Regions from separate parts of the Homo sapiens genome. Here all the other regions are linked to region 2. Evidence: fine-mapped QTL for protein levels in blood plasma. Region 2 holds a variant in brackets. A gene starts in each other region. All regions are shown on their forward strands.

What was found. A credible set is the group of variants that fine-mapping cannot tell apart. PIP is the posterior inclusion probability: the model's chance that the variant is causal. The UK Biobank Pharma Proteomics Project read protein levels with antibody pairs (Olink). The fine-mapping took linkage between variants from a reference panel, not from the people measured, so its PIPs are less certain.
Region 1: DUSP29 starts here. The variant in region 2 is the best candidate, but not a certain one, in a credible set for the plasma level of the DUSP29 protein (UK Biobank, PIP 0.69).
Region 3: HSPB6 starts here. The variant in region 2 is the best candidate, but not a certain one, in a credible set for the plasma level of the HSPB6 protein (UK Biobank, PIP 0.62).

What each region holds. Positions count from the first base shown.
Region 1 is chr10:75,070,271-75,078,449 of GRCh38, forward strand. DUSP29 (dual specificity phosphatase 29) reads right to left here and starts at 3,372. Exons shown (of 4, transcript NM_001003892.3): 1 at 3,299-3,372. RefSeq lists an enhancer at 5,995-6,578.
Region 2 is chr11:22,175,464-22,183,642 of GRCh38, forward strand. No RefSeq gene overlaps it. Among named protein-coding and RNA genes, the nearest start is that of ANO5, 14 kb to the right of the region's middle. The variant CG/C (reference allele first, on the strand shown) is at 3,431.
Region 3 is chr19:35,753,933-35,762,111 of GRCh38, forward strand. HSPB6 (heat shock protein family B (small) member 6) reads right to left here and starts at 3,097. Exons shown (of 3, transcript NM_144617.3): 1 at 2,879-3,097; 2 at 1,840-1,962; 3 at 634-1,751. The coding sequence starts at 3,076. The coding sequence ends at 1,590. It overlaps LIN37 (lin-37 DREAM MuvB core complex component), which reads left to right. Exons shown (of 9, transcript NM_019104.3): 7 at 85-225; 8 at 314-387; 9 at 461-587. The coding sequence ends at 542. It overlaps PROSER3 (proline and serine rich 3), which reads left to right and starts at 4,244. Exons shown (of 11, transcript NM_001367856.1): 1 at 4,244-4,294; 2 at 5,442-5,538; 3 at 5,857-6,059; 4 at 8,087-8,179. The coding sequence starts at 4,284. RefSeq lists enhancers at 3,349-3,920, 4,249-4,488, 4,529-4,588.

The sequences.
Region 1 (8,179 bases), not on the chromosome of region 2:
CATCCCAACCCACCACAATAGATACTTCACTATATTCTTGGTCACAAAGTATAAGCTCCTGAGGGCATGCCTGGGCCTCTCAATTCTGTATGCTTCCCTCCCTAGAGTGGAGCACACAGTCATGTAAATTTGCAGCAAGCAGCTCTTATGGGCCTTGGAATCTCACTACCTGGGCTTCGGCTTCCTCATCTGTCAAATGGGGATAACTTGCACCTCACTGGTTGCTGAATTAAATGAGATAATGTAAGCCCTTGGCACATCCGCATGAGCTCAAAGAGGGTTTCAGGGAGCAGAGACAAGGAGGCGGCCTGGAGGGTGGGTGGGGAATTCCCAGCTGTACTGGGAGTTGTGTTCCCAACCGAGAATAGGAAAGAGTGGGTGGAGCAGTTTGGCCGGGGCGGAGGTCTTGGTAGGGAAGCTGTGGCGGAGGAGATGGACTCATGTGAGCCTGAGCATTGTCCTGTGGGTGACAGGACCCATCGCCTCCTGCGTGACATGCAAGAGAGTAGGAGAAAGGACTCTCCCCAGCTAGTCAGCCTCTGGTCGCTGTGTCAGGCTGCTAGGAGATCTGACCCCCTCGTTACTGTGGAACGGGTAGGCCCAGAAACGTGAATGGTCACCAGAAGAGGAGATTAAAACACCATCTGCTCTGAAATCAGGCCGAAGAGGACAAACAGCTAACTCCTGGCCCAGGAACCTGGAGTGGCTGTTTCCAGGCCGGGCCTCCCTGAGACAGGGGCCCTGGTTGGAGTTTAGGGGTTGAGAGGAGTAGGAGAGTGAGATGCCACCAGGCCTCTACCCCAATGAGAGGCACCAGAGCAAAGGGGCTACACCCCGAAACTCTGAGGCACGCTGGGTTCTGGCCTCTGCCCCTGTTTAGGCTGCATGACCTTGGGCAGAACACTTAGTATTTGTGTCTCCGTGTCCAATCTGAAATGGGGCTGTGCTGTCCATCCCTCATTAAGCTGCTGCAATTCTGAGGAATAAATGATTCCTGCTTGTCAGGAAAGCTCTTGGAACAGTGCCAGACACATAGCACAGGAAACACCGCCAGGCCTCGGGGCCGCAGTGTCTGGGGAAGGCTTGGTGGAGGCTGCTCACCCCCACCCTGGTGGACTCAACTGGGCCTCCCTGGGGCTGCTGGAAGATGCTCACAGCCCAGCCCCTGGCCTCAGGGCCTCCCCTAAGCCCCTCATCTACTGTGGGGTCAACAACAGCCACGGGAGTGCCACCCGCAGACAGGACCAGGTTCCCACCCAACCCAGGTGTCAGCCATGACTGAAATGTCCCCAGTAAGGGCTCCAGTTTGTCTGATGGCAGAGGACCACTGGCTCTCTCCTCACCCTCAGCGCAGATCTGCCTTTGCCCATGAAGATCCTTCAGAGCCAAGTGAGATCCTGATACCGGAGGAGGGCCAGGAAGTGCTGGGTAGAGAAAGGCAGGTCCCTGGCCAGGGCTCCACCTCCACAGACCCAGGTGAGGACAGGCACTCCTGCCTTCGCACCCAAATGTTATATTTTCCAAGACCACCCTGGCCCGCCACACCCCAATCCTGTGCCTATAAAAACCTGAGACACACAACCGGCTGGACGTACTGAGGAACACATAGGCAGAAGACACAAGCGGCTGGTTGTCAAAAGCGCGCCGGCAGAAGATCACGCCGACAGGCACTGGCAGGCCTGCAGGCCATTGACAAGCGGAATGATGCGGAGTTTGGCCAGAGCGGTTGGAGGAGAAGAGTCGGCTGCTGAGTGGCCCAACTCCAGGGAAAAACTGTCTCCCTTCTGGCTCCCCCATCTGCTGAGAGCTACTTCTACTCAATAAAACCTTGCACTCTTCTCCAAGCCCACATGTGATCTGATTCTTCCCCTACACCAAGGCAAGAAACCCCAGGATACAGAAATCCCTCTGTCCTTGTGATAAGGAAGGAGGTCTAATTGAGCCAGTTAACACAAGCCGCCTATAGACAGCAAACTAAAAGAGCACCCTGTAACACACACCCACTGGGGCTTCAGCTGTAAACATTCACCCCTAGACACTGCCATGGGGTCAGAGCCCCACAGCCTGCCCGTCTGTATGCTCCTCTAGAGGTCTGAGCAGCTGGGTACTGAACAAGCGAGCCACACCCCCGTCGCATGCCCTGTGAGAGGGACAAAGGAACCTTTCCTGTTTCACTCCCACTAACTCTCCTCAGACCCACCCCATGTCCACCCCAGCCTCCATGCCCAACGCGCCTTCCTTGTTAAGAACTCAGCTCAGAAGCCCTTCAAGTGTTGTTTATTAATGTCAGAGTCCTCGGATTTGTCGGTGGGACCAAATGATATTCTCATGATGAGAACAAGGAGGGATCACAAGCTAAAGGTGGGGGCAGCGGAAAAAACATCCAGGGCCAGGGACCCTCAGGTGCTGGCGGCCGTGAGTGTGGCAACCTCTCCAGACATCCTCCTCGTGCCCTTCCTCCTGTTCGCTGGAGCATTTTCCGCTTTCCCGAACGATCAGAGCCCCCGGGCCCAACTGTTCTTGGGTTCCAGGCCCATGAAGGGACCCCTGGGGTCACAGCACAAGGGCACCAGGGTCTAATGGGAGAGCCCTGGTCTGAGACGCAGGCCCGTCCCACTTCCTGCCCACACAGGTCTGAGACACAGGCCCATCCCGCCTCCTGCCCACACGCGGTACAGCCTACACTCTTGGTCCAGTGGCTCTGATCCTTCATGACCCAGTCCCACCCCCCATCTCTACCACGGCAGCGTCATCCCCAACCCCATCCTCCCACCAGGACTGAGAAATGCTCCCAAACCCGCCACTCTGTCCAAATGACGCTTTTGTGTTACCTGGGACACAGGGAGAATTCTCATCCCTGGAGCTTTAAGTACTTTCTTGTCTTTGATGCTGCCCTACACAGGATCCGAGTCACTCCAGGGCCTCTCTCTCTCTCGCCCCCGAGATTTCTCCCCCTTTACTGGCTAAATGGACAAACGTAGAACCTCGTTGGAATGTGGAATATGATACAATACATCCAATGCTTCACAAGGGCTCGATGAGCTTTAATCCACCCCATTATCCTTTAGAAATGGTCGTTGAACTGGAAGTTCAGATTTGGAGAAAGGGAAATGGAGAAAATTCCATGGTGTCTCTCGTAAAAGGACAGCAAGAAACCTTTCACACTAGAAGGAGGTCGGCTATTCCCCACAGCACCAGGAACAGGGTGGAAAAGGGGCTTCTAATCCCCACACCCAGGCCCCCAAAGAACACGTGGGTGAACCCAAGGGGTGCCGGCCTCCCCACCCAGCGGCCTTACCTGGGTGTGCCGGGGCCTGGCCGCGTCGGGAGGTTCTGGTCCGTGGGGCATGTAGCAGCCGCACGCCCAGCCACCCCCACTGGCAACAGAGGCCTATTTTTAGGGTCAGATCTGCTGACGCTGACCTTGCGTGCCGTCCAGTCTAAGAGGAGACCTATGACATCTGCTTGCAAAATGATTTTCCAGTGCGACCTGAAACCCTTGACTTAGGAAGCCCTGTACCTGAAGCCTACACGCTTGTCCCCGGCCCAGCCACAGAGGCAGGACATGTGGCCACCAGGGCAGGGACAGACAGGAATTTTCCAACTTTGTTTTCCTGGGATGGACGAAGCCAGGTGTCTACAGGCCCTGCCCTGAGCCCTGTCCCAGAACAGCTAGAACAGGGGAGGTTTGCCCACTGGCACAGCTCTCTATTCCAGTCTTTTCTGAGAGTTTGTGGAGCTATCTCTGGGAGGCCAATGGAATGGATGCCACATCACACAGGGTAATCAATGAAACTCTGGGCAGAGTTTGTGCTGTGTGGCTTCCAGTGAGACCCCAGCAAGCACCCAACCATGCTGGGCTTCAGTGGGGATAATGATCATAATATCCTCCTCTTACATTGCTATGAGGACTGAATGAGATAAAGAATTTGGTGGTATTAGAATATTTAACAGTCTCCAGTGAGCCAAGATTGTGCCACTGCACTCCAGCCTGGGTGACAAAGCAAGACCCTGTCTCAAAAAAAAAAAAAAAAAAAAAAAAAAAAAATATATATATATATATATATATATATATATTTAACGTTAACAGTCATTAACAGTCGTTCCCAGGTCTCTCTTCTTGGCCCTTTCTTCTGTCAACCTTCCTCCTCAATGGCTCCAGAGTTCTTTGCTCTGGGATCCCTCCCACCAAGCCCTACCAATGTAGCCCCGCTTTTTAATACTTACGGGCAAAATCCTGCCCAGTCTCCTCTAATTTTCTAGTAAAATCTTCCCAGGGCTTGCTACAGTTCCTTATAATGAATGACGTGGTTCTCCATTCGTATCCATCCTTGTCATCCTCTCTGGGGCATGCTTTAGTGTGTGAAGGACTGGGAGAAGTAGGGAAGGAAGCACCAGGCTCCCACATCTTTCACTTAACACAATCTTCTTGCATTGGGGTCATTATATTGTCCTCTGAAACTTTATTCACCCAACCAAAGATCTTCCTCACAATTTGCTACATTAGCTACTGCCAGTTTAATTTATAGCAATTATTTCTACTAGTACTATTCATTGCTAAGTGACTTAGCTTTTATTGATTTCTTGGTGTGAGGAAAATTCCCAAGGCAAATACACAGAATCTGAGTGTACAATGAAGTCAGAATGTCAGAGTCCAAATGTCCCTGCTGTCAAGTGCTGGAGTCAAAACAGCAAGGTCGAAAGGCCCTTCTGCACTTACCCCAAGAACTAAGGGAGTCAGAGATGCTGGAATTGCCAAAGATAGAGAAGAAAGATTTCTCCTTAGCTGAAAGCCTGGGGGGCAGCCCCAGCCCCAGTCAAGGGCTGAGGAAGCAAAAGGGAGCTCTGAAGATGCAGCTTCAGCAGGGAGCAAACATAACATATCTAAAGACATCTGAGCTAGCTAGATGACTGAGAGAGGGAGAGAGAGAGTATTTCACACCATCTAGGAAACGTTCAATGACTTAATTTACAGGAAGTCAAGAGGAGAATTTGGTGGGTTGTTGGATTATCACCTCCAGTAAAGTAGACCCTACATGTGGTTAACCAGAAGACTGATGGCCCCTCCTCTAATCCTTCACACATTAAAATAGGCCCAAAAGAGGGTGACAAGGATAGAGAAGGGTTAAAAAAAAAACAACCATCATTTACTATGGGGAACTGAAGGAAGCCCTGGGAAGGTTTTCTTAGAAAAGAGTGGTGGTGGTGGTAGAGGATACCTGGTCTGTCTTCGAGGAGCTAAGGGGAAACACCAACATTCTCTGCACAACACTAAGGGCAGAACCTGGACCTTGGGAGACACCCCAAGAGCTGCCTCATGTAGATGAAGGAAACACACCATCCCATCAAGATGGGAGCGAGCCAGGTAAGCATCAGTTGGACTGAGAGATGTGTCCAATTGTTCCCAACTCCAAGGAGATTTCCTAGGATTCTGTGAAAAAGCAAGCTCCATTCATGCAGGTCAAGTATAATCCTGTAGAAACAACTGTTACTGGCTGGGCGCAGTGGCTCACACCTGTAATCCCAGCACTTTGGGAGGCCGAGGCGGGCAGATCACTTGATGTCAAGAGTTCAAAACCAGCGGCCAACAGGGGAAACTAACATATGAAGTTTGCCGTCCTGGACCCAAACTTTTCTGGGTCCAGAAGATCCAGAGGCTTTTAGTGCCCTGTGGATACCTGAATATGCATGGAGGCTGAGTCCAGCTGCAGCCCAGGGGAGAGGCCTCCCTGCCCACCCAGAGGCCGGATCCAAGGGCTGTAAGTCTGCAGCTCTCCCAGACGGCTCTCTTTTCCTTCACATTAAAAAGCAAAGCAAAGCAAGAGAAACTGAGGCCTATGTTCTGCAGGAAGTCCAAAGCCCTCTCCAACATCTCAGAGGACTGTTTATCCCTGGGAAAAGAATAGTAGGATGGCTCTCATTTCTCCAAAGTCAATTCTGCTGTGGCCTCTCCACCCTTGCTGGCACTCTCTGGCCTATCACTCCTACAACCTCATTCTGAGCTTGACACCACCATCTTCTATTATTCCTCCATCACTCACCCAAGGGATTGTGTGGGGCAGAGGGATTGCAGCACAGAGCAGGAGACAAGTCCACATTCAAGGTTTAACCTCCCCATTCTTTGAAAATTATTGGCTAGGCCCCATCTCCAAGGACTTTCTGTGTCCTGCTGTGTTCATGAGGCTCCTCTCTGTACATGCGATTGTCACAGCCTTCCTTTTTCTTCATTCGTCATCTCTCCCCTCCTCTCTAGAGCCGAGTGCCTCAACAGGCTCGAGAGTCCTCCTATTGTCATGCAGAGCAGCTCAACTCCCTCTTAGTCTCAACCTCCCAGGCAGACTAAGCCTAGGGTGCCCCCATTCTCATCCAACAAGCTCACCCAGGTGGCTTGGTGGCGGGTGCTTGTAATCCAAGCTATTTGGGAGGCTGAGGCAAGAGAATTGCTTGAACCCGGGAGGCAGAAGTTGCAGTGAGGTTGCAGTGAGCCGAGATTGTGCCACTACACTGCAGCCTAGGAGACAGAGCGAGACTCCGTCTCAAAAAAAAAAAAAAGAAGAAGAATATGTAGGTGCTTTGTTCTCTTGGGATCTGGCTTTCAGCAGTGGCAAAGTGTGACTGTAACTCTACCCATTTTTGTAATTAAAACCATCCACAGGCCACAGAGAATGCTTTTCCCTTTCTCTTGCTCTGTGTTCTCAAAATCAAAGGTAACTAAATATGAATTAAATGAAGGTTGGTGGGCTGTGCTGCCACTGACCTTGGAGGTGGACACTGCTTTGGAGTACTAGGAGGATTTGAGCTATGGAAGGGCTTCCCGGTGAAGAAAGGGGGCTTATTCTATTTGTCAAGTATATCTACTCAGATAGTATAAAGGACCTGGTAGCGCTGAGCGTCCTGATGTCTGTGTTTCACCTCACAGTTCTGGGGGCACTCCAGAATTAGCATGGTATTCTGACAGTTGCAATAGCTGAGAAATATTTTCGTATATTACACAGTTCATAGTGGTTTTTTGTTTGTTTGTTTGAGACAGAGTTTTGCTCCTGTTGCCCAGGCTGGAGTGCAATGGCACAATCTTGGCTCACTGCAACCTCTGCCTCCCGGGTTCAAGTGATTCTCCTGCCTCAGCCTCCCAAATAGCTGGGATTACAAGCACCCGCCACCATGTCCAGCTAGTAGAGACGGGGTTTCACCATATTGGCCAAGCTGGTCTCGAACTTCTGACCTCAGGTGATCCACCTGCCTCGGCCTCCCAAAGTGCTGGGATTACAGGCGTGAACCACTTCACCCGGCCCCATAGTGTTCTTTAAAGCATATATATGTAGGTCTAGATGTAATGAGCGTAACACATAATGACAGTTCTTTACATTGGCTACTAGACTTGTAAATAGTTTCATTTTTATAATATTTTATTTATTTATTTATATTTGTTGAGATAGGGTGTCATTGTATCACCCAGGCTGGAGTGCAGTTGTGTGATCATAACTCACTGCAGCCTCGACCTCCCTGGTTCAATCGATCCCCCCACCTCAGCCTCCCAAGTAGCTGGGACCACATCCGTGCACCACCACGCCCAGCTAATTTTAAAATTTTTTTGTACAGATAAGGTCTCCCTATGTTGCCCAGGCTGGCCTTGAATTCTTGGGCTCAAGCAATCCTCCTACCTTGGCCTCCCAAAGTGCTGGGATTACAGGCATGAGCCACTACACCCAGCCTATAACAAAATTTTATGAGATTTAACAAAATTTTCAAAAAAATGACAAGATTTTCAGGTTCATTTAGATCATTTTGTCTTAAAACTTCGATAGTCAATGATTATATTTCTTTTTATTTTTAATAGAAACATTGAATATCTTAGAAAGAAAAGAACGCTTGAAAATTATATGAAAATAATTTTAGGTTTTTATTGTTTTTATTTAATTTGCTTTTTTTTTCTTCTTCTTGAGACAGAGTCTTGCTCTGTTACTCAGGCTGGAGTGCAGTGGCGCAATCTCAGCTCACTGCAACCTCCGTCACCTGGGCTCAAGCAATTCTCCCACCTTAGCCTCCCGAGTAGCTGGGACTACATCTGTGCAGCACCATGCCTGGCTAATTTTTGTTTGCATCTTTATGTAGAGATGGGGTTTCACCATATTGCCCAGGCTGGTCTCAAACTCCTGAGCCCAAGCAGTCCACCCAAGTG
Region 2 (8,179 bases):
AGGAGAGAGGCCTTAGGAAAAACAAATGTGCTAAGCTTTTGATCTTGGACTTCTATCTCCAGAACTGTGAGACATTGTGAGACAATAAATTTATGTTGTTCGAGCCACGCAGTCAGCAGTATTTTGTTATAGTAGCCGTAGCAAATGAATAAATAGCATCTATGTATATTTGATTTATGTCTTAGGCCATTTGTACTGCTATAACAAAATACCTGAGGCTGAGTAATTTATAAAGAACAAAAATTTATTTTTCACAATTCTGGAGGCTAGGAAAGCCAACATTAAATTGCTGGTAAATTCAGGATCTAGTGAGGGCTCATTTCTCATGGATGGCACTGTCTAGATGTCCTTACATGGAAGAAATGCAAAACAGACCAAACTCCCTTCCCCAAGCCCTTTGATAAAGACACTAATCCATTCATGAGGGCAGAACCCTTATTGCCTAATCACCTCCTAAGGACCCCACCTCTTAAAACTGGTGCACTGAGGATTAAGTTTCAACATGAGCTTTGGGAGGGACACATTTAAACCATAGCAACATATCACTCTTAATTCCACAACATGCTCCTGTTCTCTGTTTCTGACCTTGAATTCATTCCTTAAGCTTAATTCACTGTCCTTTTCCTCTGCTATTGTTCTTGGTTTCTTTCCTTAGCTACAGTTGGCATCCCTTCTCTTTCAGCAGGTCTGCTTTTATCCTCTACAGGTACAGAAGACTAAATCCAAGAGGGTGTTAGGAACTCTCCTGATACCTGTTTCATGGGGATACTGCAATCACCAGATTCCATTCTTTTCCTTCTCAACCCAAATCCTGTGGCTAAAGCCCAGCAGCTACGCCTTATAAACTTCTCATCAACTAATATCCCTCCCAAGACAAAGAAGTGGACTTCCTCTAGGCATAAGAAATAATAACAAGTCATATGAAAGCTGGAGTACAAATTCGAAGACTACTGAGCACAATAGGACTAGCCTTGGGGAGGAGGCATTTATCTCTGACAACTTTATATTTGCTCTATGCCCACAATCCTGTCTTCATAATTGAGCGGTGCTATAACAAATTACCTGAGGCTGGGTAATTTATTTTTTTTTAAGAAGTTTATTTGGCTCACAATTCTGGTGGCTAGAAAGTCCAAGAGTATGGCATAGGCATCTGCTCAGTTTCTGGTGAGGGTCTCGTGCTGCTTCAACTCATGGCAGAAAAGCAGAAAGGAAAGTGAATGTGTACAAAGAGGGACCAAACAGTGGAGAAATTGTGCTTTACAATGCACTCTGGTGAAAATTAATCTATTCTCAAGAAAGCAAGAACTCACTCACTCCTGAGAGACAGAGACATCATTAATCTATTCATGAGGGATCTACTACCACCAACCAAAAGCCTCCCACTAGGCCCTACCTTCCAACACTGCTGCACTGGCAATTTGACTTCAACGTGAATTTTGGCAGGGACAAAACACATCCATAACATAGCAAATTATTTTCTTCTTTTTTTTTTTTTTTTTTTTTTTAGTTTTTCCTTATGCAGTGAATACATTTCCTGGAGGGGAGCTATTTGTGGGTATATAATATTTCACCCACTTTCCAAGAGTTCACTTTATATAAATTACTGTACATAGGGCTTTTGTTTTGGCTGGAGAACCTATTATTATTATTTTTTTTTGTAAGAGAGGTGCCGAGGCAATGGAAGAGATGAAGAGAGTACAGGCAATGGGACCATGTTTGCTGCCACAAAGCACATTAGATTGTGTGAGAGATACTAAGGGAGAGAGGAGTTAGGACCAGAGCATGACAGACCCTCTCACATGAGGGACTTAGTGAAAGTCTAAGAACTGGCACTGCTACTTTGAGCCTCAGTTGCCAGAAAGCTGAGGGAGAATCATTCTCCTCCCTTCCTTTCAATACCCTGCTTTGGCCTCCAGGGACATCAGCAGCTTCAGCTTGACTGGATGTGTACATCATCACAAGTATACAGAGGTTCATTCCGTTCCGGCTGTTGGATTACAACGAGGGAGAGATGAGCAAGTTGCAGCAGGGCCTAGATGCTGGCTGAAGCTGAACTGACAAAATACATTTTGATCGTGTTTTACAGACAATCTTTGAGGCATCAAATGATAAGAGGAGACACTTTCCTGGGAGAAGGGATGTGGGGGTATGTAAAAAAGACTGAGTGAAAACAATGTTAAGGGAGAACTTATTTTTTGGCCACGTACAGGGACCTCCAACTCCAGGATGATGTCATCCCAAGATCCTTAACTTATATATGATAAAGATCCTATTTTCAAATTAGGTCACATTCACAGGTCCTAGGGACTAGGACTTGGACATATGTTTTCAAGGAGACACTATTCAATCCACTAAATTCCCCTGTGGAAATGTTACTTCCATTGAGAATCACTATATTTTTCTGCAGTGTGTATTATCTAAACTTTAGTATTATTCTAGAAAAAAAAATTTACTTGAATTTCATTTTACAAAACACATTCTCTCTTTACCCACTCCCCATTCCTATGGGGTAGGAAGGCTCAAAATGCCTGCCAACTGCTCTGTGTTCCACTGCCTACCTACCAAGTTAGGCAGCTCCATGCAATTCATTATTCAGGCCACGACTGAGTGAACCATTTGCCTCTCTTCCTGGGTATTATCTAGACAACATTTTCCAGTTTCCTGGGCAGTTTGGTGTGGCCATGAGACTGAACTACCCAAAGGGATGTGAAAAGTGGTGCTTATCACTTCCAGTTAGCCCATCAAACCCTTCCTTAAGATCATACGCTCTCCTCTCTCCGCACAGTCCCCAACCCACCTGATACAGTTTGGCTGTGTCCCCGCTCCCAAATCTCATCTTGAATTGTAGCTCCTACAATCCTCATCTGTCCTGGGAGACCCAGTGGGAGGTAATTGAATCATGGAGGTGATTACCTCCAGGCTGTTCTCCTGATAGTGAGTGAGTTCCCACGGGATCTGATGGTTTTTTTTTTTTTTTTTTATACTCTAAGTTCTAGGGTACATGTGCCCAATGTGCAGGTTTGTTACATATGTATACATGTGCCATGTTGGTGTGCTGCACCCATTAACTCGTCCTTTACATTAGGTATATCTCCTAATGCTATCCCTCCCCCCTCTCCCCATCGCATGACAGGTCTCGGTGTGTGATGTTCCCCTTCCTGTGTCCAAGTGTTCTCATTGTTCAATTCCCACCTATGAGTGAGAACATGTGGTGTTTGGTTTTTTTCCTTGCGAAAGTTTGCTGAGAATGAGATCTGATGGTTTTATAAAAGATTTTCCTCCACCTTCACTCTGTACTTCTTGCTGCTGCCATGTTAAGAAGGATGTCTTTGCTTCCCCCTCTGCCTTGATTGTAAGTTTTCTGAGGCCTCCCAAGCCATGCTGAACTGTGAGTCAATTAAACCTCTTTCCTTTATAAATTACCCTGTCT[CG/C]GGTATGTCTTTATTAGCATACCTGAGACAGGTATTAGTCTGTAAGAACAGACTAATACACCACCCCAGCCTAAATTTCTACCTTCAGGGCAAACATGAAAGCCTTGTGTTAATGATGGTAAATTTTTCATCAGTCTGGGTCTGATTTTTCATCAGATTGAGTAAAATAGAGCTCCCCAACACTAATCAGGAATACCATTTGGGAATTTAGTGGAGTAAGAAATACATTTTTCTTCCACTCAGTATTAAATGACCAAGATTTTGAGGATTATCTGTCGAAGAAGTCAGCATTCTCTTAATTAACACAAGCAACTAAGGTGGTGCACAATCTACTCAGTTAGATCTTTACCAATTAGGAAAGTTGAAATCCAGAGATACAGAATGGGGGTAGAGTGTTCTATGAAAAATTAGAGTAAAATTTAACTTTTCAAAGCGACCCATTAGACCCTGTGTAAAAGGGCCCTTTCCCCTCTTCCTCTCCTGACATTTACACCTTACTACGTTCCTCACGCTGGTCCCTTTCCTGGACTTAAACATATGCTCATTCCTACCTCAGGACTTTTGCATGCACTACATTCTCTACCTAGATTACTCCTCTTCAATTCTTTGTAAGATTGGTTTTTTATCATTCAAACTTCAGCTTAAACATAATCTTCCCAGAGAAGCCTTCCTAAATATCCCTGTGTAAACTCTATGTAATCACACTCGTGTACCCAACCCAATAATTTTCCACATTACTCTGATATATTGTTTCTATAACTTTTTGAAATGATAATTTTATTTTTTTTACCTGTTTATTTTCTCTCCCTAGGCACTAAAAAAGAAGTTACATTAGAATAAAGACTTTATTTGCCTTGTTCATTGTTATATCCCCAGAGCCAAGAACAATGCCAAGCAGCAGCTCAGTGATATTTAGTGAATGAATTAGTGAGGAGAGAAAAAAGGGAAAGAAAGAGAAAAATGGCAGGCACCCAAGAAGATCACTTGTTAAATACTTACAATAAATTTTCACCAGTTAAGTTCAGAGTATATCTTTTTCTTGTACTATAAAAAGATTTTATACTATACTATACCATACTAAACTCTTAGAGAATAATATTCTTTCAAATCATTTATCTGCATTTTAATGTACTTTCCATAGTAACTAGCACATTTCGCAAAGAAAAGTAGTCACTTCTGAATGAGAATACCAGAAGATGCTTGAGAAAAAGGTTTCACAGTCTGAAAACAGAGAATAGACAATTAGCTATTTTGGTTGCAGCAACACAGGGGGACTTAGGAAAAGACAATCAGGGCTCAAAGATTCAATGTTTAATAAGAGGGCCAGGCTTGAGAGAGAGACAGGAATCAAAGCAGTGACAATGGGCCCAGAAACGGGAAGCAGAATAACTATCTCTTGGCAGAAATAGTCTAGCCAGGACCCCCTACTATCCTCAGTATTCCTGCTGGCATTGTGACATGATTGAGCATGGCTCTTGTTCGATCCCATCTAACACCATGATGAATTAATTCTGACCTTTTATTCCTGTATCATTTGCTCAATTTCAAAGAGATAAATGAGAACATTTAATTGGCAAACTCTAGGTCATATGACCGATTCCCCTCAGCTGCTGGCTAATTAGCATCTGTGTTAGATGGTAGGAGGGCACCCTCAACTGAAAAAAAAAAAAATCCGAAAAACTCTGCTTACCAAAACACCAAGGCTTAAGTAGGCAGCGGGATGTTCCCAGACAATTGTCAGATGAGGTCAAGGTGAGGAGGAGAGAGTTTTGAGGGTAACAAGAAAGTTGTGATTCAATTTGGAATAGCCTTGCATGCCAGGTTCAAAAATGTAGTCTGTGTCCAGGAAAACATGTATTGATTATTTCCCTAATCAGATCGTAGTTTCCCTGAACGATTAGAAGGATAAAGTGTTTATCCCTCTGCCCCTACCCATCTTATACTGAAACTGCAGACATAAACAGCAAAAAGTACAATGCTTTATGCATCACAGCCAATCAATAAAATATGTTCAAGTAAAGCAGAATACAGAGGACTACAACTTGTCATCAATTTATAATAAAATAATATAAATGAAAAGTCAAAAGCAAGGCCACCTAAGAAAATTAGAAAGAATTTTTTCTCTATACTCTCCTATTTTCCTTTTTAAGATTGTAGATATACCTCTTCACCAACTTCTCCCCTTCCCTAGAAGATAATCAGAGTAATGGAAGAAATGGCACTTACATACGGAGTCTGACACCCATATTTCCAATCCATACTCTGCTACTTAGCAGCTATGTGACCATGGGAAAATCCTTAACCTTTCTGATCTTCAGCTTCATCATTCAAAAACTGGAACTCATACAAACTATCTCATTGTTGTGACTATCTAACCTGATAGGAAAGTCTGTATTTTCCCCCTCTATCTTCCCCTTAAGAAGTCATCAAATCCAGTCTTAACTGCCCAGCAATTAGCCAATGCTCCAGAATTCGTTTTCCTCCTCTCCAATCCTAGCATTCTTACCTAGCCTTATATTCTCACACACCATATGCATCTTAAAGAAGGTAATTTGTGTTTCAAAAGAATAAAAATTTAATCGTGCAATTAGTGGCAATTAGGGAAGTATCTTTGTTGGGGCACCCTCAGGGGTATTTCTATAACATTAACTGTAATCATTTATTCATAAGAACACATCTGCCAGATAGTAAGAGTTTTCAGCTAATAATATACAAAATTAATAAATCATTAGAAGGCAGAATAGCACAGAGAGAAATGGCATGACCTCTGGAGCCTATATACCTCTGTGAAAATCTTAGCTCTAGAACATACCAACTGTGTGATCTTCAGCAAGTTACTAAAACCCTCTGTGCCACAGTTTCCTTATCTGAAAAGGCAAGGGAATAGTATCTATTGTAAGAGGTTGTTATAAGAATTAAATGAGGGCCGGGCGCGGTGGCTCACGCCTGTAATTCCAGCATTTCGGGAGGCCGCGGCGGGCGGATCATGAGGTCAGGAGATCGAGACCATCCTGGCTAACACGGTGAAACCCTGTCTCTGCTAAAAATACAAAAAATTAGCCGGGCATGGTGGCGGGCGCCTGTAGTCCCAGCTACTCGGGAGGCTGAGGCAGGAGAATGGCTTGAACCCGGGAGGCGGAGCTTGCAGTGAGCCGAGATCGCGCCACAGCACCCCAGCCTGGGCGACAGTGCGAGACTCCGTCTCAAGAAAAAAAAAAAAAAAAAAAGAATTAAATGAGCTAATACATTATAGCTCTTAGAACAGTATCAGAGTCAGAACTGAAATCAGTTTGTTAAAATGATTAAGCAGAAGTTCCTTAAATGGAAAAAAAGATACAAACTTGTACTATTACCCTTCTTTTATTCAAAATGGTCAAACTTATAGTGTGAATAGATCTGCAAACTGACTGAGAGATAAACACCTCATGCTCCTACCAAATGAAGGTTAGTTATGCAAAGATTTAGGAAGTATGACACATACTAGTTTCTTATTCCTGCATTGAAAAGAAAAATGGATGACGCAAGTCAGACACAGACATCTTTAGACCCTCCCTCTCAGTCTCTCTCTCTCTCTCTCTCTCTCTCTCTCTCTCTCACACACACACACACACCCCATGCTTTTTTCTATCTCCTATACTAGCTCCATATCTTGTTGTCTGAATCAGTATAAATTTTTATACAAATTGAATTTTTAAACACTATAAAAACTATAGTATAATACAGTATAGTATAATGTAATAGCTATGAGCATTAGCTATGAGCCACACTTACGTTTCCTTGTTTGTAAAATGGGAACAATAACTACCTCATAGCATTATTGAGGGGATCAAATAGCAAAATGCTTTAAATTGTATTTTTTATAACAACCTGTTGAATTTATTTTACCAATTTTGTTGAGCAGATTGAGACAATGAAACATCAAGATACTTGAACAAGATAATTGGGAAGTGAAACATCCGTAATGGGTTAGAGAATTTCAGAGCCCTCAGCTCATCCAATCTTCACAACCACCCTCCAAAATGGTCTTATGCCCATTTCTAAACTGAAGCCCAGTAAGTATTGGAAGCTTATACAGGATTCTAAAGCTAGCAAGTGGCAGAGCTATGATGTAAACTCCAGTTTGCCCACCCTAATTGCCATGTGTTTTTGTTTTATTTGGTTTGGTTTCTCCAGTAGTTAGATGGAATCAAATGAAATTGAGATGAAATATGCCAAAAATAGTCACATTTGGCAATTCCATATAGTTCAATGTGTATTTAGAACTATACTGTGGAAAAATCATCACAACTCTTCACTAACACTCTTCTTTCTCTATCTTTTCCTTTACTTTTTTTTTCCAAATTCACAACCTAACATCCTACAGATATCAACACTGATTTGAACAGAAGACCATTAGAAAGGATTTTAGAGGAATAGAAGATATGATTTCTGCTTTCACATAACTACTATCTAGTTGGGTAGATATGCTAACCATGCAAGAAACTATCAAAGGGCAAAACAATGAAGGAGAAATTCAACTGCCCATCAATCAGTGAATATATATGTGTCATGCCCTATGCTTGTCTCTGGTGGATGCAGTGATAAGTAGAAGATACATGGTTCTTGTCCTCACAGAACAATGGCAGAGATAGTAGAAAACAAATAGTTACATAATTACAGATGTAATATGTTTTCAGAGTACCCATCACTTCTTTTCTCTGCTGACTAAACAACCCATCTACATACATCCTATCATTCTGAACTTGCCT
Region 3 (8,179 bases), not on the chromosome of region 2:
GGAAAGGCAGGAGGGATGAATGTGGATTCCCAGCCCCTCTGCTTTGACTCTCTTGGGCCTGGCATGGGGCCCTTGTGTCCCCAGGGCTCAGAGGTAACCAACAGCAAGAGTCGTGATGTGTACAAGCTGCCGCCACCCACACCCCCGGGGCCACCCGGAGATGCCTGCAGATCCCGCATCCCATCTCCACTGCAGCCTGAGATGCAGGGCACCCCTGACGATGAGGTGAGTATGCCAGGCTGGCCCAGGGTTATGGGGCACATGCGGTAGGGCTCAGGAATGGCCACTCAACCTGGCCTGTCTGTCCATGCAGCCCTCTGAGCCCGAGCCCTCACCCTCCACACTCATCTATCGCAACATGCAGCGCTGGAAACGCATCCGCCAGAGGTGAGCGTCCCCCAGCCTGCTTGCCCCTCGTAGGGCCCTTTGCAACTGCTGAGTCTCCCCTCTGCCTCCCCAGGTGGAAGGAGGCCTCTCATCGGAACCAGCTTCGTTACTCAGAAAGCATGAAGATCCTACGAGAGATGTACGAACGACAGTGATGTTCCCAGGTCCCCCCACACCAGTAAACATCCCCCAGCTCCACACTGGTGTCTGCTCCGGTCCCTCCTTCCTGGCCCAGGCACAAAGCAGTTGGCAGAGCTCTAGCACATTTATTGGGAGAGTAAGCCTGGGAAAGACTAAGGGAGTGGTGGCAGGGAGAAAGGCTGTGGGGAATCAGAGCGGGTGCTCAGTTGGGTCTTGAAGGAGAAGAGGAGGAGGGTGGGAGGTGGGTTGCCGAGGATATCTGGTTGAAGACTTGGGGGTCAAGACAAAGGGACTTAGGGGGATGGGGTCTGGTTAGAGTTGGGGAGGGGGCCTAGGACATCCGTGCAGAGTCTGGGGAGGTTGGGGTGGGAGAGTCTGTACAGTTTGGTGTTGGGTGTTCTAGTTGGCCTGGTGTCCAAGAGTTGGGGCAGTCGAAAAAGGGTTCCAGAGTCTGGTGTGGCTGGCTGGGGTTTCACGGCAGAAAATGGGCTGGAGGGGGCAGTTGTAGACTGTCTGGTTGCAGGGGAAGGATCGGGTCTTGGGAACCAGGCCTGGATGGTCTGGAGTGGGAGGTCTGTGCAGTCCAGGACGTTTGGGGGGTGGGGGGATTGTGCCTGACTGGCCTGGGGTTGGGGGAGGGCTGTCTACACCATAATTTGGTGTCAAAATAGGGAAGGGATGGAAATGTAGTACCCGGATGTCTTTGTAGAGGACTCAGAAGGAAGTAGAGGAGGGGTCTTAAGTGGGGCTATATGCCAAGAAAGTGGGTCGGTGGGGCTGAGACTGTCGGCTGAGGGTTAGGGTAGTGCTGGTAGGGTCTGGAAGCCGGGGAGTTGTCGGTGTGGGGTCGGAAAGCTGGAGGGGGTGTGAGAGCGAGGGTGTCAGTGGAAGGGTCTATGTTATCAAGGCAGTGTCCAGGATGGAGGTCAGGGCAGAATCCAGGAGTGGGTGAGAGGACAGTCCTTGGCGCACTCGGGACATCTGGCTGGGCGGAGTCAGATCGGCTTTAATAGAGGGAGCCTGAGGAGGCTCCCGGGGTGCGGGCGCGGCCCAGCCCCCTCCTACTTGGCTGCGGCTGGCGGTGGGGCCTGGGCCGACGCTGGTGCGGCCTGGATGGACAGGACGCCCTCGGGGGACAGCGCGGACGTCACGGCAGCCGGATCCACGCCAGGCGGCAGGCGGTAGCGACGGTGGAACTCGCGCGCGACGAATCCGTGCTCATCCTGGAGGGGAGGGAGGCTTGAGCGGCCCCGCCCCTCCGGCCCGGCGGCGAGCGTACCCGCTCCAGCCCCGCCCCACGCCGCGGCTCACCGGGCGCTCCTCGTGGCGCGCGTGCACCTCCACGTGTTCGCCCACCACCTTGACAGCAATTTCCTCCGGCGAGAAGTGCTTCACGTCTAGCAGCACCGAAAAGTGGCCGGGGTCCGTCGGCACCTGAGCGCAGCGGGCGCGGGCGGGACTGTCATTGGGCTGGGCCAGGCTCCAGGACCCACCCAGGGAGACCCCACCCCCGTCGGTTCCGTGCCGCGGCTCACTCTGGCCTCCGGAGTTGAGCAGTCAGCTCTCCTACTGGGAGTCACCCAGGACCTCTTCACCCTGAACAACAGGGATACGCCCTCCCCCTGTAATATCTGGGATTGCCCTCTCCCCCGCAGTGATGAGGCTCCCTTCCCCTGCAAGGTCAGGAACCTCTGCCCTCCCCCGGTGTCAGCGAATCCGAAGTCATCGTGCCCCCCAGGGCACTGATTCCCCAGCTCCCTCCTCAGAGCCCCGGGTCCCTTCTCCGCCAGCCCCGCCAAACTCGCCAAGATGCCCCTTTCCCCGTCTCCAGGGTCCTCTGCCTACTCTCCCACTCGAGTCACGGGACCTCGGCAGCTACTGGTAGCCTTCCCCCACTTCAGAGTGGCCGGGAACCCTTCCTCAAGTCGCAGGGCCCTCTCCCCTCCTCTTCTGGAGATATCGGGCCACCGCACACAGTCTCTCAACTCTTCCCCGAGACTAAGAACATTCCTTCCCCTCAGGAGTCACTGCCCGCCTCCTTTTCCCCAGATTTCCCGGATCACCAGCCTCCTTCAGAGTAAGCAAGACTCCCCTTAGAGTGACCCAGGCCTTCCATTCTCTGGAGAGCTGAGAGCCCCCCACCCCGCCCCCCACCTAAGAGCGACGGGGACCTCCCACCCGCTGCAGTGTGCGGGCCTCAGATTCCCATTGACTCCGGAAGCCCTTCGGAGCTGCGGACTCTCCACCCCGCCCAAGGCCAACGAACATTCTCTCACATGTTCCCACCCCAGGCTGCCCCAGACCCCTGGCAATGGAAGTGGTCGAGTTCACCCCTCCCCAGGCCTGGCACCTGGGCGACGGGCAGCGCCACGCTGGGTGCGCGCAGGTAGTAGGGGGCGAGCGTGGTGGGGCAGAGCGCAGCCAGCTCGGCCTCCAGCAGCCCCTCGCCGAAGCGCTGGTCAAAGAGGCGTCCGGGCGCCGAAAGTCCGGGCAACGGGGCCGAGGCGCGGCGCAGCCAAGACGGCTGCACAGGCACAGGGATCTCCATCCTGCTCCTCCGCGTTGCAGTGCCCCTGCGTGCGCAGCCGCTCATTTATAGTGCGCCCTGTGCCGGCCCCTCGGAGGGCTGCCCAGGGACACTGGGACCGTGGCCAGACCCGGCCATTAGGAGAGCCTTATTTAGAAACCCAAACAATGACTTGGCCATTTATTAAGCGCCTGCTGGATGCCTGGCAAATGCTGTCAAGAAGGTGACATGAAGATTCCCCAATTTCCAGAAGAGGAAACTAAGGCTGAGGAGGGGGAGCCTTGCGGGTGTGGGGAGCACAGCGTGGTGATTGGGGCCCAGGACCCAAGAGGCCCACGGAAGAGTTTCCAGTCCCTTTAATCCACTGCCTCCCCCCTGGCAGCTCTGAGGATGACGCAGATGGAGGTCTTTAGGAGCAGATTCCTGGAGAATGCGGTAGCCCCGCCAGGATGTCAGGAGGACATAGAACAGGCCCTCCCTACCCTTATCCTCAGCCAGACCTTGGGCCCAGTCCCCCGGCAGGCCGGGCCTAATTCTGTGCCTCTGACTCAGCCTCTGGTGCGCAGAGGCCAGGGGGCGCGAGCATGAACAGTTCAGGCTGGCCCCCCGGGGGCCGCGCGCTGGGGCTGGAAATAGCTCATTTTGATCCCGCTACCTCGGCCAGGAGCCCAGACCTGGCAACTGATGCAACCAGCTGCTCCTGCAGCAAGAAAGAAGTTAGATGACCGTTGGGACGGACTGATTGGCCCAACTGATGGAGGAATAGCGGTTAGAGAGAGGGCAGAGCGCGCCCCCCCCCCAACCCGCCCCACTGCCCCTGCAACAGAAAGAATGGTAGTTAGACCGGGGTCGGGACAGGACTTCTGCAGCAAGAAGGCGCTTAAAAAGCGGGACTTTTAAGCGAGGGTACTTTAGATCACCTCCTAACCGCAAGCCCAGCCTCAGATCCTTCCCATTGGTGCACGGTCTTGCCAATTACTGCTACACTCGGCAGGTTCTCCAATCAAACACGCCCTGTCGGGCAGGCAGTCGTCCCAGCCAATCCTGAAACACCTCCCTCCGGGTACTTCTGTTTCCTCTCTTTCATTGGTCGCCTTGGAGGCCGCTCGCCTCCGGCGCGGGCACAGAGAGGGGCGGGGCTGATAGGGCGTTGCTAAGCGACGGAGATGCGCGCGGGGCCTGTTGGGTGAAGGAGCAGAGCGGCCGGAAGCGCGGAGGGAGCCGCGGGATGGACCGCAGGTGAGGCCGATCGCTCTTCCAGGGACTACAGGAGGCTGGGGAGGACCAACGGCGAGAGCAGCACAGCCTAGGACGGGCTGGATACGGTCTGGAGTCGCTAGGGCTCCACCGCACTGGAACTACAATTCCCAACATGCTCCACAGCCGTTGGCCTCTCCAGCCGTAGCCGTTAGCATCCCGGGGGTCCCCTAAGAGTCTTATGTTCCTCTCTGAGTGGGCCCCAAGGAATTATTGCCTCTAAAGGTGTCCAAGAAAGGCTTGAGATCTGAATTTCTTCATTTTGAAATGGCCCCCAGACACGCCTGGGCGTTGTCTTTGAACTTTCTCGCGGAGGCGGAGCCCAGTGGATCCTGGGGCTTGTAGTCCATCTACCCTTTGCCTTCGTGTCCCCCAGGAATGTATGGGAAATGCTCGGTGATATAATCCAGCCGCGGTTCTTTCTTTCTTTCTTTTTTTTTAAGACAGAGTCTCTCGCTCTGTTGGCCCAGACTGGAGTGCAGTGGCACAATCTTGGCTACTGCAACCTCTGCCCCCGGGTTAAAGCAATTCTCATGCCTCAGCCTCCCAGGTAGCTGGGACTACAGGCACCTGCCACCGCGCCTGGCTAATTTTTTATATTTTTAGTAGAGACGGGGTTTCGCCATGTTAGTAAGGCTGGTCTCGAACACCTGACCTCAAGTGATCCACCCGCCTCGGTGTAATCCCAAAGTGCTGGGATTACAGGCGTGAGCCACCACGCCCGGCGAGCCGCGATTCTTAACCTGAACTCCACTTCGCAATCACCTGGGACGCTGCGGAAAAGACACGGAGGCCCAGCCCCACTAATAGATATTCTGATTCTGTTGGTCTGGAATGGGAACCGCGCGCCTGTAACGTTGAAAAGCCCCTCCTAGACTGGATCCAGGGTTGAGAACCACCGGCTGTCAGTTCCTGAGTTGCTCCCTGTTAAGACTGCTCCAGGGGCGGGCTCCCAGGACTCACCCTTCCACTGTCGATATCCTGAATGTGCAACGGTGCTTCATGGAAATGACAGTCCGTCTCCTCCAGGAATCTATGGGAATTGTCTGGTTCTGCCCTCCTCTAATGTCCCCCTCCCCAGGGCTGCGGCGAAACCACGTGCTGCCTGAACCCCACTTTCCTCTTGCAGCCTGCCAGTTTTCTCCATTCAAGATAGTCCCTTTGGAGATGCGCCCCTGGGTCGAAGCCACTACTGGCCATCCCAGAGCCAGACCTGGTGTCCCAAGGTGAGGACACCCCTCAAAGAGTGCTGAGTGCCAGCCCAGTAGCAAGAGAATGACCTTTAGAGGGTAGGAAGACATGTGATGAGAGATAGGGATGAGAGATTTAAGAGACAGCCCCTTGTCCCCTCCCCACGGCCCTGCCCTTGTCCCCCTCTCTACCACCTGGATTCCCCATCTGAGCCCCCATCACACTAGGTTGTTATCATTACAGGATGTGTTTCCTCCCCTCTGGACTGAGACTTTGTGTGTGTCCTGGTTCCCCTGCAGGGATGACCCATGAGACCTCACACTTTTTCTTCTTGTGCTCTTCCCTGATCTTAGACCCTGAGCCCATCCAGGTCTCAGAGATCCAGGCTCCCACAAGCTCCCAAGGCTCTAGCCACAGGTCCCAACTCCCCTGAGCTGTTTGAGGAGTCCTGGCCATCCAGTTCAGGGACCCCCTCCCTGCCCAGCACCACTGAGGGACAGATGTGGGCCTCCCCAGCACCCACCCTGATTGACAGCGGGGACTCCGTGGTGGCCAAGTAAGTACCAGCAGCCCTGGGGGAAAAAGAGGCTTTGGGTTAGAGGGAGGGAGAAGGCATGCAGTAATAATCATCATGGCCAGAGCTGTTTCTGCAGCACTCTTTTAGGACCAGGCAGTTTATGTGTGTTAAGAACTCTGGTGCTAGACTGCCTGAGTTCAAATCCCAGCTCTGTCATTTAACTCTCTGTATGATCTTGGCCTCAGTTTCTTTATCTCTTTTTATTTATTTATTTATTTGTTTAGAGACAGGGTCTCGCTCTGTTACTCAGGCTGGAGGTCAGTGGTACAATCACAGCTCACTATAACCTCAAACTCCTGGGCTCAAGCCGTCCTCCCACCTCAGCCTCCTGAGTTGCTGGGATTACGATGCATGCCACCACACCCAGCAAACCTCCCACCTTGGCCTCCAAAAAGTGCTGTGATTACAGGCCAGACGTACCATGCCCAGCCTCAGTTTATTTATCTCTAAATTGGGTGTTTTGTTTTGTTTTGTTTTTGTTTTTGTTTTTTTGATGGAGTTTCACTCTTGTTGCCCAAGTTGGAATGCAGTGGCATGATCTCGGCTTACTGCAACCTCTCCCTTCTGGGTTCAAGTGATTCTCCTGCCTCAGCCTCCCAAGTAGCTGGGATTACAGGTGCCCACCACCACACCTGGTTAATTTTGTGTATTTTTAGTAGAGATGGGGTTTCACCATGTTGGCCAGGCTGGTCTCAAACTCCTGACCTCAGGTGATCCACCTGCCTCAGCCTCCCAAAGTTCTGGGATTACAGGTGTGAGCCACTGCCAGGCCTAAATTGGGCATATTAATAGTACACATCCCCTAGGGCTGTTTTGAGCTTTCAGTGAGTTACTATATATAATGATCTCTAGCAGTGCTTCTCACATAGTCACCACTTAGATTTGTAGAATACAGGTTCAGCTGCTGTAACAAAGAGTCCCAAATTAATTATGGCTGAAACAAGATAGAATTTATTCCTCCCTCACCTGCAGTCCAGGCAGAAGCCACCAGGGATGATGTGGCAACCCGTAGTTGAGGTGTCAGGGACACAGGTTACTTCTGTCTTGTTGCTGTCCGAACTCTAGGCCGTTGCCCTTTCCTTCATGGTGCAAAATGGCTTTCAACCACATCAGCTTTCCAAAATCACATTTCATACCCTGTTTGTCAAGAACTTAGTCACGTGGTCACAAGGCTACAAGGGTACCTGGTAAATATAGTCCATAGGAGACTGGCTGTGTGCCCAGCTAAAAGTTACATTCCTGGCTGGGCACAGTGACTCATTCCTGTAATCCCAGCACTTTGGGAAGCCAAAGTGGCAGGATCCCTTAAGCCCAGGAGTTCCTGACCAGCCTGGGCAACATGGCAAGACCCCGTTTCTACTAAAAATACAAAAATTGGCAGGGCTGCAGTGGCTCACGCCTGTAATTCCAGCACTTTGGGAGGCCAAAGTGGGTGGATCACCTGAGATCAGGAGTTTGAGACCAGCCTGACCAACATGGTGAAACTCCGTCTCTACCAAATTAGCCGGGCGTGGTGGTGCATGCCTGTAATCCCAGTGACTTGGGAGGCTGAGGCAGAAGAATCACTTGAACCAGGAGGCAGAGGTTGCAGTGAGCCAAGATCACGCCATTGCACTCTAACCTGGGCAACAAGAGCAAAACTCCGTCTCAAAAAATAAACTAATTAATTACAAATAAATAAATAAATAAAAATACAAAAAGTAGCCGAGTGTGGTGGCATGCACCTGTGTCCCAGCTACCCAGGAGGCTGAGGAGAGAGGATTTCTTGAGCCCAGGAGTTGGGGGCTGCAGTGAGCTATGATTGCACCACTGCCCTCCAGCCTGGGTGACAGAGCGAGACCCTGTCTCAAAAACAGTTATGTGACTATATAAGAAAGAAAAGCAGATATTGAGGGATAGCTACCAGGCTCTGCCATGGTGCTTGGTAAACGTTGGCTGCTATAATTATTCTTATTATTATTTGGCTCTCCTCACTCCACTCACCTCCTATCCCCTGATGTTCACAGGTATATAAACAGGTTCCGCCAGGCTCAGCCCACCAGTCGAGAGGAGCGCCAGCCTGCAGGCCCAACCCCAGCTGACTTTTGGTGGCTGCAGTC